2 linked regions of the Homo sapiens genome follow. The protein of the gene in region 2 interacts with the protein of the main gene of each other region in a pairwise test. Each region holds a gene or a part of one and is shown on either strand. Other genes may lie near its edges.

Region 1 (4,662 bases), on a different chromosome or scaffold from region 2:
ATTTCACGGCACAAAATACAGACAGTATAAGGGATGTGCAGCAGAGTGATCTCTTCTTCCCCTTTCCCCAAGACCCCGCCCCAGGGGCAGTCGCGGTTTAAAGGGGTCTGTCACCCCTTCCTTGGGCCATTTCCGCGCTTCGCATTTTGTGATTTGCACGTGCGTTGGTGGGTTCCCGGGGGCGGGGCGCCGCGCTGGCCCCGCCCACCAGGTGCGTCCCTTGTCTCGCCCCCTGCAGACGCGCGCACGCCCACGCTGGATCCTGACACGATGCACGCGCGCCTGCGCCTGTCCGCCGATCGCCTGACGGTGCGCTGCGGCCTGCTGGGCAGCCTGGGGCCCGTGCCCGTGCTGCGGTTCGACGCGCTCTGGCAAGTGCTGGCTCGTGACTGCTTCGCCACCGGCCGCCACTACTGGGAGGTTGACGTGCAGGAGGCGGGCGCCGGCTGGTGGGTGGGCGCGGCCTACGCCTCCCTTCGGCGCCGCGGGGCCTCGGCCGCCGCCCGCCTGGGCTGCAACCGCCAGTCCTGGTGCCTCAAGCGCTACGACCTTGAGTACTGGGCCTTCCACGACGGCCAGCGCAGCCGCCTGCGGCCCCGCGACGACCTCGACCGGCTCGGCGTCTTCCTGGACTACGAGGCCGGCGTCCTCGCCTTCTACGACGTGACGGGCGGCATGAGCCACCTGCATACCTTCCGCGCCACGTTCCAGGAGCCGCTCTACCCGGCCCTGCGGCTCTGGGAGGGGGCCATCAGCATCCCCCGGCTGCCCTAGGGGCCAGGACCGGCGTGACAGCCTCCAGGTACGCCGCAGCTGCCCAGTCTCGCCTAATCTACCTAGATCAGCGTGGCTGGTCCCCTTACTGCCTGCTTCTTAGGGCCCTCTCCCTGCCCCAGCTTTCCCCGACCAATCACGCCTACAGTGCTTTGAAGGTTTCCTCTCCTAGGCTAGTTTCAAACAGGCCCTAAACAAGTCTGCTGCTGCCCTCTCATCAGACCTCCGCACCCTCACCCCACCATCACTTACACTACTTTAATCCAGTTCCTTCAAAGTGATACCCCCACAGGTAAGCCCTCAGCATCCTGAATACATCATCCGCAGCCTGGGAACCTTCTCCCTCGTACAGCACAGGAACCTGACACATAGTAGGCACACAGTAAACGTTTGTGAATGAATGGGAGTCATCCAGTCCTGACTCTTCTGTCTCTTGAGGTCCCTTGAATCTTCCGCTTCCTCCCCACCGATTTCAGCGTGTCCACATCACAGCTCCCTCCAGAAGCTGCAAGAGCTTCTTAGCAGTTCCTGGTCTGAACCCTCTCCCAGTCCTCATCTTCCACCCTAAAACTAGAGTGATCTTCCTAAAACTTCACTTAACCCCTCAGCTATGAAAAGGCTTCCAGGAGTTTCCATGAAATAACAAAAAAAAATACAAGCGCCTCACCTTAGCATTCAAGGCTTGTCTAGTCTGCCCAAAATTACTTATCCTCACCTAGCTCCTACCACTCTTCTTAGAGACTCTCCAGTCAGAAATGTGTCGCATAGTTCCACCTCCACACCTCTCTGCTGCCAGCACATTCATGCAGAAAAGTCTTTTCACCTGTCTCAGTCTTCCGCAGGCTTACCTGCGCCAGGAAGTCTAACCAAGGAACAAGAATCTCACTATCAGAGCCACAAATCTGGGACCTGTCTTTCCAACTAAATTGGAGGCTTTGGAAGGGCAGCTTTGTCCTATACTCTCTCCACCCTGAAAAGTTCCCAGAAAGCCCCTTCCCTCCCAAGCAGTGAATTAATAACCAGCAGGTGCCTATCACTGAGTAACAGAAGAGCTGAGTTAGGCGGGCCTCACAGGTCACCCAGCCAGATCTCATCTGGGGAGTCTGAGGTCCTGAAAGAAAGCAGAGCTGCGTAAAGTTACCCCGGGGTGATATAGGGGGGCCAGACGTGTGCCCCGTTCACCCACCCCCAGGCAAGCATCTGACCTGTCCCCTGGCCCAGCCCTTAGGCCCAGCTTTCAACCTGCTTACTCATTTCTCAGGGGATTTTGGGAAGGAATCAGCAGGTGACAGTTGCTAAGCAACCAAAGGGGGTGGTGTTTCCCAACTGTCTTGGGACAAAAAGGGTAAGAGCACCCTTAGATCCAGATGTTGCCAAGGAAACCCAGAGTGCCCAGCTGTCTGGAATGAAGTGACAGAGGTAGAAAACAGTAGGCCCTCACAGGAGGCCACCTTCGCTAGCAGGGAGTGGGAGGCTTCTTTCCAGGGATTTGTGTCTCCGTTCTGAAGGTTCTGCGTCCTGTTTTGTCAATTCCCTAGACGGTTTTGAAGTTATATTCTGTTAAAGCATCTTCATAGGTGCTTGGTGGGAGGCCAAGGTCGCCGAATCCTCGTGGTTTAAATAGACTTTCAGTGCATTAGTTTGAACCATATAAAACTGACAATTTTCAATAGTTTTTGAGTTAAAAATGGCACTTTTGATATGAGACAATGTAGCAGAATACCAGGCAGACAGAACCTTGCAAACACCTTAACTTCTAACCAAAGACTTTAAAACTCTGGCTGGACAGAGTTTTAAGCACTATGCTGCAGGAATCCTGAGAAAAAGGGGAAATTAATTCTATTAGGAATGGCCCAAACTGAATTGTGACAGGCAGAGGGTGTTCCTGACAGAGGGAAGATGAATACACTTGACCCCAACATTTCTGCCCATCCCTGATGACCAAGACCTCTTCCCAGACCCACAGCTGCAGGGGCCAAGTAATAACAGCTCTTAATAGTTTATAATGCACTGTTTTAATGCTTTACGACTAAACTCATCTGATCCTTTCATCAGCCCTAGAGGGTAGAAAGTTTTCCCAATTCTACACATGGCAAAATGGAGACCCAGAGTCACTTGCCCAAGGTCGCACAGCTAGTGGTGGAGCTGGAGTCTGGGCCCAGGCTGTGAGTTCCAGGTCTGTGCTCATGGCCACCAGGCCCTACTGCTCAGGGTGAATGCAGCTGGTCTCTGGCCAGTGCCTGGTGCTCTGGCCCCTCTCGTGGAGCTACTGCCCATGATGCTTTCCTAGTGCCTGGTTACTCTGCGAGACTTGAGTCTACCTTTGGACTGCCTTCCTTGGGGGTCTGAGATGAGGCCTTATGGCCCAGAGGGGAACTTGATTCAAAAATTTGGGATTCATGTAGCAGAGACAGAGCTAGACTGTAAAGGTCACAAACTAGCTGTGTCAAGGCCCGTGATAGCCAGAAAGCGGCAGTTTCAGTCCATATCAATTGTGTGACCAGGGCTAGTCACTTTTTACTTCTCAGTGCCATCTATAAAATGGGGATAATAGCACTACCTACCAAGTGCTGTGAGGCTCAAATGAGCCAAAGGTTATAAACTTGCCTTAAAACTATAGTCCTATACAAAAATTAGCTGGGCGTGGTGGTGCATGCCTGTAATCCCAGCTACTAGGGAGGCTGAGGCAAGAGAGTTGCTTGAACCCAGGAGGCGGAGATTGCAGTGAGCTGAGATTGCACCACTGCACTCCAGCCTGGGGACAGAGCAAGACTCTTGTCTCAAAAAAAACAAAAAAAACATATATACTGCTGTATCATGCCAGGATTTATCAGCATTCCCAAGGGAGCTTGCACGGTACTGACCGAGTGCTGAGACTACTGGTATTCCCAGCTGCCATGTGGCAGCAGCAGGAGCTACTAGAATATTCTCAGCACAGGAATGAGGCTTCCTTGGTTTCCATGTCTGTAAGGGTTACTGATCACTTACCTTCTTCTCTTTCAGACTTGAATCTGTAGACATTTCTTTATTGATATGGCAAATTGCTTGCAGATATTTTTAAATGACAGCAATTTTCTAATATTTGGTTTAATAAAATGTGAATAATGTCCCTTTTAACCATGGTCTTCACTGGGAGTTCATGTTGCTTCAAGTCCCTAGCACCCAGTGATACCCCCACAGGTAAGCCCTCAGCATCCTGAATACATCATCCGCAGCCTGGGAACCTTCTCCCTCGTACAGCACAGGAACCTGACACATAGTAGGCACACAGTAAACATTTGTGAATGAATGGGAGTCATCCAGTCCTGACTCTTCTGTCTCTTGAGGTCCCTTGAATCTTCCGCTTCCTCCCCACCGATTTCAGCGTGTCCACATCACAGCTCCCTCCAGTTCATGTTGCTTCAAGTCCCTAGCACCCAGACCCAGAAGGGCCTTTACTCATATCTTATTCCTTACGCAGCCTTCTGGTAGTAGTCAGCTGCTCCCTGATTAACTATCTCCAGGGATGGGGCATTCACTGCTTCTGAAGATAACTCATTAAAGTTCTCACTTACGTGTAAACAAACCCTGACTCCCACCTGTTCCCATCCAAGATCGTATTATAGCTTGAACTCCTGGTCTCAAGCAATCCTCCCACCTCAGCCTCCTAAGTAGTTGGGATTACAGGCTCACACAAGCACGCCTGGCTCACATACCACCTTCTAACATATTGTGTGACTGAATCACTATGCTATGGATTTTTATGCATCTGCCCCCATCTGAATGGAAGTTCTCTGAGGAAGGGATTGGGGCTTGTTCATGGCCATATACTCTGTGCCTAAAGCAGTGCCTGGCACAAAGATGGCCCTCAATATTTGTTCAGAGAAGGAACACATGCCATTTCCCTCT
Region 2 (7,292 bases):
CAAACCCTGGCAGCTGAGCTCGCTGGTAAGATGACAGTTGGTCTTCAGGTGGAGAAGAGAGCAAGCGAAGATGCTGGCCTCCCACAGGGGAAAGACCTGCAGGACCCACGGCTCAGCCTGAGTGATTCTGGTTTCTGAGAGCCAGGGCAGATGGATGGGTCAGCCCAGCTACTGGATTTCTGAGAACAAACTGAGTGTCTCCTGTGCAGGGCTCCCCTGGTGAAGTCAGAGTGCTATGGACACTGGCCGAGAGGGTGTCCTGGATGACATCTGCATGGTTCTGGCCCACTCCCTCACCCTGCTGGCCCAGGCACTCAGGCTACGCTCTGCTCCTCTGCAGGGTGGAGGAAGGCGGGGAAGAGGGTAGCAGGTAACAGGCCTGGCTAAACTCACGGGCATGGGGGCTGGAAGAAACTACCCACACCACTTTATGTCAAATTTAAACTCCCCCTACACAGGTTAGTCATCTTTTCCCACTTTGTCAATGCCAGGGGCAATACCACCAGTATAATGGACAAGAGCACAGGCTCTGGGACCAAACAGCCTGGGCTGGACCCCCAAGCTCATGGGCCATGGGCAAGTTCCTGATCCTCACTGTGCCTCAGGTTTCTCATCTGTAAAATGGGAAAAACGAGACCACTTACCTCACAGGGCTGTATTAAATAACACACGCCTGGCACAGAGCAGGCACTGTAAAAAGATTCTTTTGCATCAGTGATAGATACTAGTATTATTCTATGCTACCTTCCATGTTTGCTTTTATTACACACTGCTTTATAACCTGAAATCTGACGACTTCTATAGAACCCCGATGTCAATGCATGGCAGAGAGTTTGCTCTCATTTAGAAATTCCTTCACTCTGATGCAGAAACATCACTGGATCCTACTAGTGGGTAACTATGAACTAGGTGGCATATACAAAAATAATCACAACTCTGGGGGTGGGTCTTTGTCTCACTGGAGTTATAAAAAGGCCCAAGAGTATAAGCTAACAGGTTTCCAGGGCAATGCTTCCACTATCCCTATTTATAGAGCAAAGCCTGTAAAAGCAGCTTTCTCCAAGATCTGAATGATATTTATGTGTCTGCGGATCCACTGTGGGGCAGACATGTTGCACTGGGGTGGGGTGTGTAAACACACTCATACTGGGAAGATGTATAGGATGTGGGGTTCTTAAGGCGCTGGCACTAGGCAGCGGCACTAGGCAGCCTCCACCACCCCCCAGCTCCAAGCTATAGACAAGGTGATCCCCACTGTGCAGAGCTCTGCAACGTGGAGCTCAGGAAGTGGGATTCCTAGGACTGAACCCCTCCAAGATCCGCTCTGTATGTGCATGGACGGGTGACCCCTCTCAGGAGCATGATGTAATGGGTGAGATCAGTAACAGCATGGCAAGGCTGGTGTGGAGGCAAATGCGGACGGGGGGAAGGACAGTCTTGGGAACCAGTAAGACCTGGATTTACGGGTCAGTTTCACCACTTGCTTTGTTATCTTAAAATGGGGGTAATATTAATAGCTATCTCCATAAAGCAATTTTGAGAATTTAAAAAATGAATACACCTATAAAATACTCAATGGCTGAGTGTTAGTGAATGCCATGTTATATGGATCTCAAGTGACAGTCTGATAAAATGTCAAAGAACAGTCCTAGTCGTTCCAATCAAAACAAGGCAAATCCTTTGGGACACCTACAAGAAGAGAGAGAGAGACCGCTGCTGCTGCACTTCAGAAACAATGGCGATCCCGGCATGGTGAGATTTTTTTAATGTCTTAAAATCTTTTTTCTTGTTCATATCTACATTTTTTCTATTTGACCAAAAGTCAAGCAGGGCTCTACACACCTAGAATGTGTTGCTTTTCAGACTTTGCAAGCATTCACGTCATGCTCCAGAGCACTAGGGAGAGCCAGCCATCTGAGCAGGCCCCGCTGAGGCACATTCACGTCACAATGTAGACAGGATTATTTATTCAACTTGCCAGTGTGTCCTTAGCACTAATGAACACCCCTGAGCTACCATCAGCTGAGGCACGCTAAAGCCAAAAAGCTTTGGTCAGCCCCCCTAGGTCATGCAGCGAGTGTGCTCACCCACGAAGAGGCAGCGCTTGGAACCAAAGTCATTCTTAAGCCCCTCCACCCCTTCTCTAACCAGTAAGGACTCTCCATTGTCACGTGGCACAGCCTACGTGAGATCAGGAACATTCAATTATCAGCCTCCTTTTCTGGCAGAGCTTTGAAAAGTGTGGAAATTATATTCCACAGTTACTGCAACATGATTCCATCCAAAGTCCCACAAATGCTCAAGCAGCAGAAGTTTGCTAATCTACAGTATGTTATATTCATCTCCCACTTCTTTTATAAAAAGATGCAAATGTGCTGTGCTAATGACATTTAATATTGCTAAGTCACAGATTTAATAAGAGCTGGTATCAAATCTGCTATCTGTAAATGCAGTTCTACAAAAACAGATAAGTGCACACAGCAAAATTAAATTTTTGAAAAAGCTACTACATAAAATAAAAACTTCAAGATCCATGACTATTTTTTAGTATAGACTCTAGAAATAAAGCATTTTAATTCTCAATTAAAACTAATAAGTCATTATGACAAAAGTCCTCTTTTTATTTACTGCCGTTGTAAATGATCACAAAACATATTCATTGTCAAGTGAATGCACAGGCTTTCAAAGGTGATTGTATTCTGCAAGGTGGGGAATAGCCAACTACCTTCTAAGGTGAATGTGCAGCCTGCCATTTCCAACCCCAAAACTCCTCTAGATTCTCAACAGGGCAGCTTCTGCTTCATGCCTCTCTTCGGAAAGGTCAGCCCTGTGTAGAAGGCTTAATACCAACATGCAGATCCACCTGAGAATCACTGGAATGCTCTGGACCCAGCTGGAATGCTTCCGGAACCCAGTCAGGCTTCCGGAAATGAGAATGTGTGCACACACTTCTTTCCGTATGGTTTCACTCTTTCCACAGGTGAATTACTTACCTGCCCGGTCATATAAAATGTGGGATCGCTGTAGGCCCTCCTTCACGTCATTCTCTGTGATCAGAACTCTACTGGGAGAATAGGATTGCCCACTCTTCTTACAGAACATCTTCCTAGAGCTTAACCTAGCCAGCACCGCCAGCTGCAGTCCGTTCAACCCAGCTCGGGCGTCACCGTCACTGAGGTAAGCCAGGGTGTCTACTGCTTTATCCTCTATGAACATGGCGGGCCTGAAACACAAGCAGGGTTAGTTACGGTCACACTCAGGCTGCATACTTCTTGTTCTGCACATGTCTTAGAAACTCATACTTCTCAGCAAGGACACTGAAGAGTTCAAGGCCTTTGCCTCTTATTCTCACCTTTGTCAATGTGCTTAAGCATCATCAAGACTACGAACTGACTGGGGCTCCTAAGTCACCAGGTTATCGCCCTGTATCTTATGAGTGTCGAGGGTATCTCACTGCATAGGTTCATACATCTAAGTCTGTGTGAAACAGACACTGACTGGCCTGGAAAGTCACTGTTGACAGGTGGTCTCTCTGGTTCTACCCTGCACAACAGTGAAAACTTTATTAGAAATGCTAGCACCTCATTACCGTGTATGGAAAACATGTTCCAAATGCAGCCTACATCCGATGAGACAGATGTGCTTAGACCACTTTCCACACAGGGGAGAGTCAGCATTATATCTGAATATTAGCTCTGAAGGGCTCCAGATCATGCAGTTCAATTCCTTCATTTTAAAAACAACAAATTGGGTCCCTAGTTACTCTGAGCACAGCAGGTCCTAGAAGCAGGTCTCAGGATTCTCTTGGCCTGGGGAATCTTGGGATGCTGCAGTAGGTCATCTCATAGTGGACACTAATCATGCAAAATCCGCACAGGGTAGCAGAGAGGTCATTAGCCTGGGAAGCGACGAGAAGACTGCTGGTACATAGCCATGAGACCCTGGGTAAGCCACCTAACCTCTCTCTGAACATCAGGACTAAAACTTACAGTCACATTTCTAAATTTGGACCCTCATAAATAAGATCTAACTATGATCAGAAGGCTGACTCAGTAAAATTTTCTATCCCTAGTTGAGTTAAACAAGACATCTAACACATTTCATAACTTAGTGGGGTCTTATTCCTGGCTGAGCTGCTAGCTGCACATTTGTGAAGCAAAAAAATAAAATTTTTCAGTTACAGTTCACCCATGTCATCAACATTCAGCTGAGAACATCTACAGTAAATAATAAGCCCATTAGGACTGTCCGAATCAGCTACCTGGAAAACAATGTACAGGCACCAACGGGGCTGGGCCGGGGAGGGGTGGCAGTTTCCGAAGGGGACCCAGCTTGCCTGCTGGATCAATGCAGAACTCCTCAGCATACACCCACTCACTGACACTACTCTGCTCACTGAGTAACCCAAATAACACCAATCTGCATTTCATTCACGGAAGGATTTGTTCCCAATGCCTTAAAGATGCCTCATCTCACCCCCATATTTACCAAAGTTGATTTCCAGTTATTCCTTGTGGGTCTCTCACCACACCTAAGACAACTGGCCAGCCCCAGCTTTACAACAAATGACTCTCTCCTCACTCATGCCAACTGCCTGGGCCCCAGAGCCAGTGGTGCAGCCTGGAGACCCATCTTCCTCTCTCCTGATGGTAGCATTCTCTCAGCAGACCTCACCAGAACAACAAAAAAACAAACACCGAGGCCATGTCACTGGCACTCTATAAAGCCTGGGGATCACTGCTCAACCAGAAATTAGTTAGCAAGTCTTCTGGAAGATGATTTAGAAGATAATGATGGACAGAACATATACTAAAGAAAATGTATGGGGAAGGACCAGCATCACAGGGGTGTAGCAGTACGTGACATGCCTGAGAGGGAAGGGTGCACTCTCAGCCCCTTACTGCACTCAACCTGTGTGGGAAGACAGGTAGGGAGAACAGAAACTGCTTGGGCATCTCATTTCTGCCTCAGAACTAGTAAAAACAATGGATTCTCTCTCCTTGGAAAGCTGCCTAGCAACAAAAAGCCTTCAGGACAATTGAGGGAAGAAAAAGGAGTCAAAGCAGGAGCCCCATTGGATCCTAACGGACTGAACTAGCCTATATCCTGCACCATGGGTTGGATTGTGTGTTGATTACATTACATTCATCATCCCTACTATGCGGAGCACCTCAAGGAGAGGAATATTTTATTCTTTGTATTCCCAGACCTGGTAGATGATAGGCATCCAATATTTGCAAAATGAATGGACTAACTTCAGTTTTATCATAATCTCAGAGTGAAACCTTTACTTCTTATAAATTATATGGAAAGTATAGAGAAAACAAAAAGAATCCATATTTCCAGCACTGAGAGATAAAAATGTACTTGATATTTCCAGCAGAATGAAAGCTACTGTGCCAAGTGCTGACTTTACGATCCACTCACCCATGCAACCATCAACCTTACAGCTAACCTAAAACAAAAACTGGGACCATATTTTACATAGTTTTACATCCTTAACCATTAAATAATTGTTTGAAAAACAAGCTACTCAGACCTGTCAACATTTACTTTAAAAAAATTTACATTAAATTTTAAAAATAGACAAAGGGAGAAAATTCACCTTCTGCTAGACTACCTTGACGTTAGTATTTTGGTATGTATCCCTTCTCCATGAATTTGTCTTTTGTATGTATTTAGGGGCATGGCATGCTCTTTGGACAGTGACGAGATGGGCAGCCTTATATACCATGGTATTTACTAGTATAAACTGCCTCATTTCCATTAGTCCTCATATACAGACAGGGAGGCAGGCCTTATTAATTAGGACAGAAGCCAGCTAGCCGTCTACTCCATTGATTTATCAACAGTATGCTGTGAATAAGTCTTTAGCAATGATTATGTATTTTATGTGGTTGGAAAATAAGGTCTTCCTTTGGCTTTTAAACTCCTGACCAAAGTACAAGTGGTTCCACACTTCTGGTTTGGAGTCATGGGGAATGGAGGTGCTGCCACAACGAAAGCTACCTGAGCTCGCGCCACTCCCTTCTTCTTCCTCCCCTTGGGTATAATCCACATTTTAAATTTCACCCCGTCCAAAAGAAGAAAGTATTTCGAGGCCCAGATCAATCTGTCGGCAACTCTGTCCAAGTAATACAGGACCTGCTGACAGCACTCACAATGATCACACAAGAAAATTACAAAATGGAGATTCACTGTGAAGACGACTGAGCAGGGAAAGGTTCCACTTAAACACCCAATATATCTTGAACTCCCATTTACTAAGTTCTGAAGAACGAAGTAAGATATACTAAAATACCCTGAGATCTTAGAATGGGAAGCCCATGAGAGAACTCATGCCAAGAATGATGAAGGGATAGTTGTATTGATATTGGCAAAATCCCTCAGCAAACTGCGGCACAAACTATTTTGAAAGAGTGTTCCCAGTCTAGAGAATTTACAATTATTTTTAAATTTAAGCATATATTAAAATTAAGCATATATTTATAAAGTGTTTTGCACTTAAAAATAACCTTCCAAAGGTAGAATACAATAAAAAGAGGTAAAATCTATTCTGGGGATAGACTGCCCAAAATGTCATAACATCCTACATGGAAATAAACAATAGGAAGTAAATTATGTTGTTATAATAAAACACTATTTATAATAAGGGAAAATTGGTTAAAATAAATGCATTGGAAAAGATTCTATTTCTAGTTAACAAAACCTAGAGATAGAAACAGACTTAAGAGAGCTTGGCTTCTCCAACTGATGAGAAGGGCTTTAATTTTAACAGAAGAATATAGGAAGCTCTCTTCTTTCCTCTTCCAGGTGCCTAAATCCTGAAGCTTTCTACACATTGGGTAATACTGGAATTTGGAGGATACTACTTAGACAGCTGGATATGTAAGTTGGAGAAGGAGTGCAGTAAGTAAAAATGTACCTGTTATTTCAAGGCAGAATGAAAGAATATGCATGGCTTGGTTAAACTCTCCCTCTCTAAATTACAAACCAAACCCCACAAATCTCTTCCACTAAGGAAAAGGAACATTTCATGGTCAGGGTGATAACTGCTGTGTAGAAGTTTCAACCAGGGATATGCATCAAGTTAGACACAAATACAGCCACATGTACCTTACCTACCATAGACTGAGCTCAAATCTCCAGGGGCAGACCCTGGGCAAGGCATGTTTCTAAAATGTATCCCAGGGAAGTGTGATGTGCAGATCTGGTTAAAAGGCTCTCCTGCTGCTCTTACACAAAGAAGTGCCAAGAGAGAAAAGTCAGAACAGAAAAACCGAGCAGTGGGT

The links.
Region 1: the proteins of WRNIP1 (region 2) and TRIM14 interact in a two-hybrid assay, tested with the Homo sapiens proteins (one study listed by BioGRID).

The regions. Positions count from the first base shown.
Region 1 is NC_000009.12:98,083,582-98,088,243, reverse strand, and holds the end of TRIM14 (tripartite motif-containing protein 14), read left to right. Parts: intron 1-238; coding exon 239-774; 3' UTR 775-3,891; downstream 3,892-4,662.
Region 2 is NC_000006.12:2,775,194-2,782,485, reverse strand, and holds part of WRNIP1 (ATPase WRNIP1), read right to left. Parts: intron 3,224-7,292; coding exon 2,994-3,223; intron 1-2,993. UniProt on the Homo sapiens protein: Functions as a modulator of initiation or reinitiation events during DNA polymerase delta-mediated DNA synthesis. In the presence of ATP, stimulation of DNA polymerase delta-mediated DNA synthesis is decreased.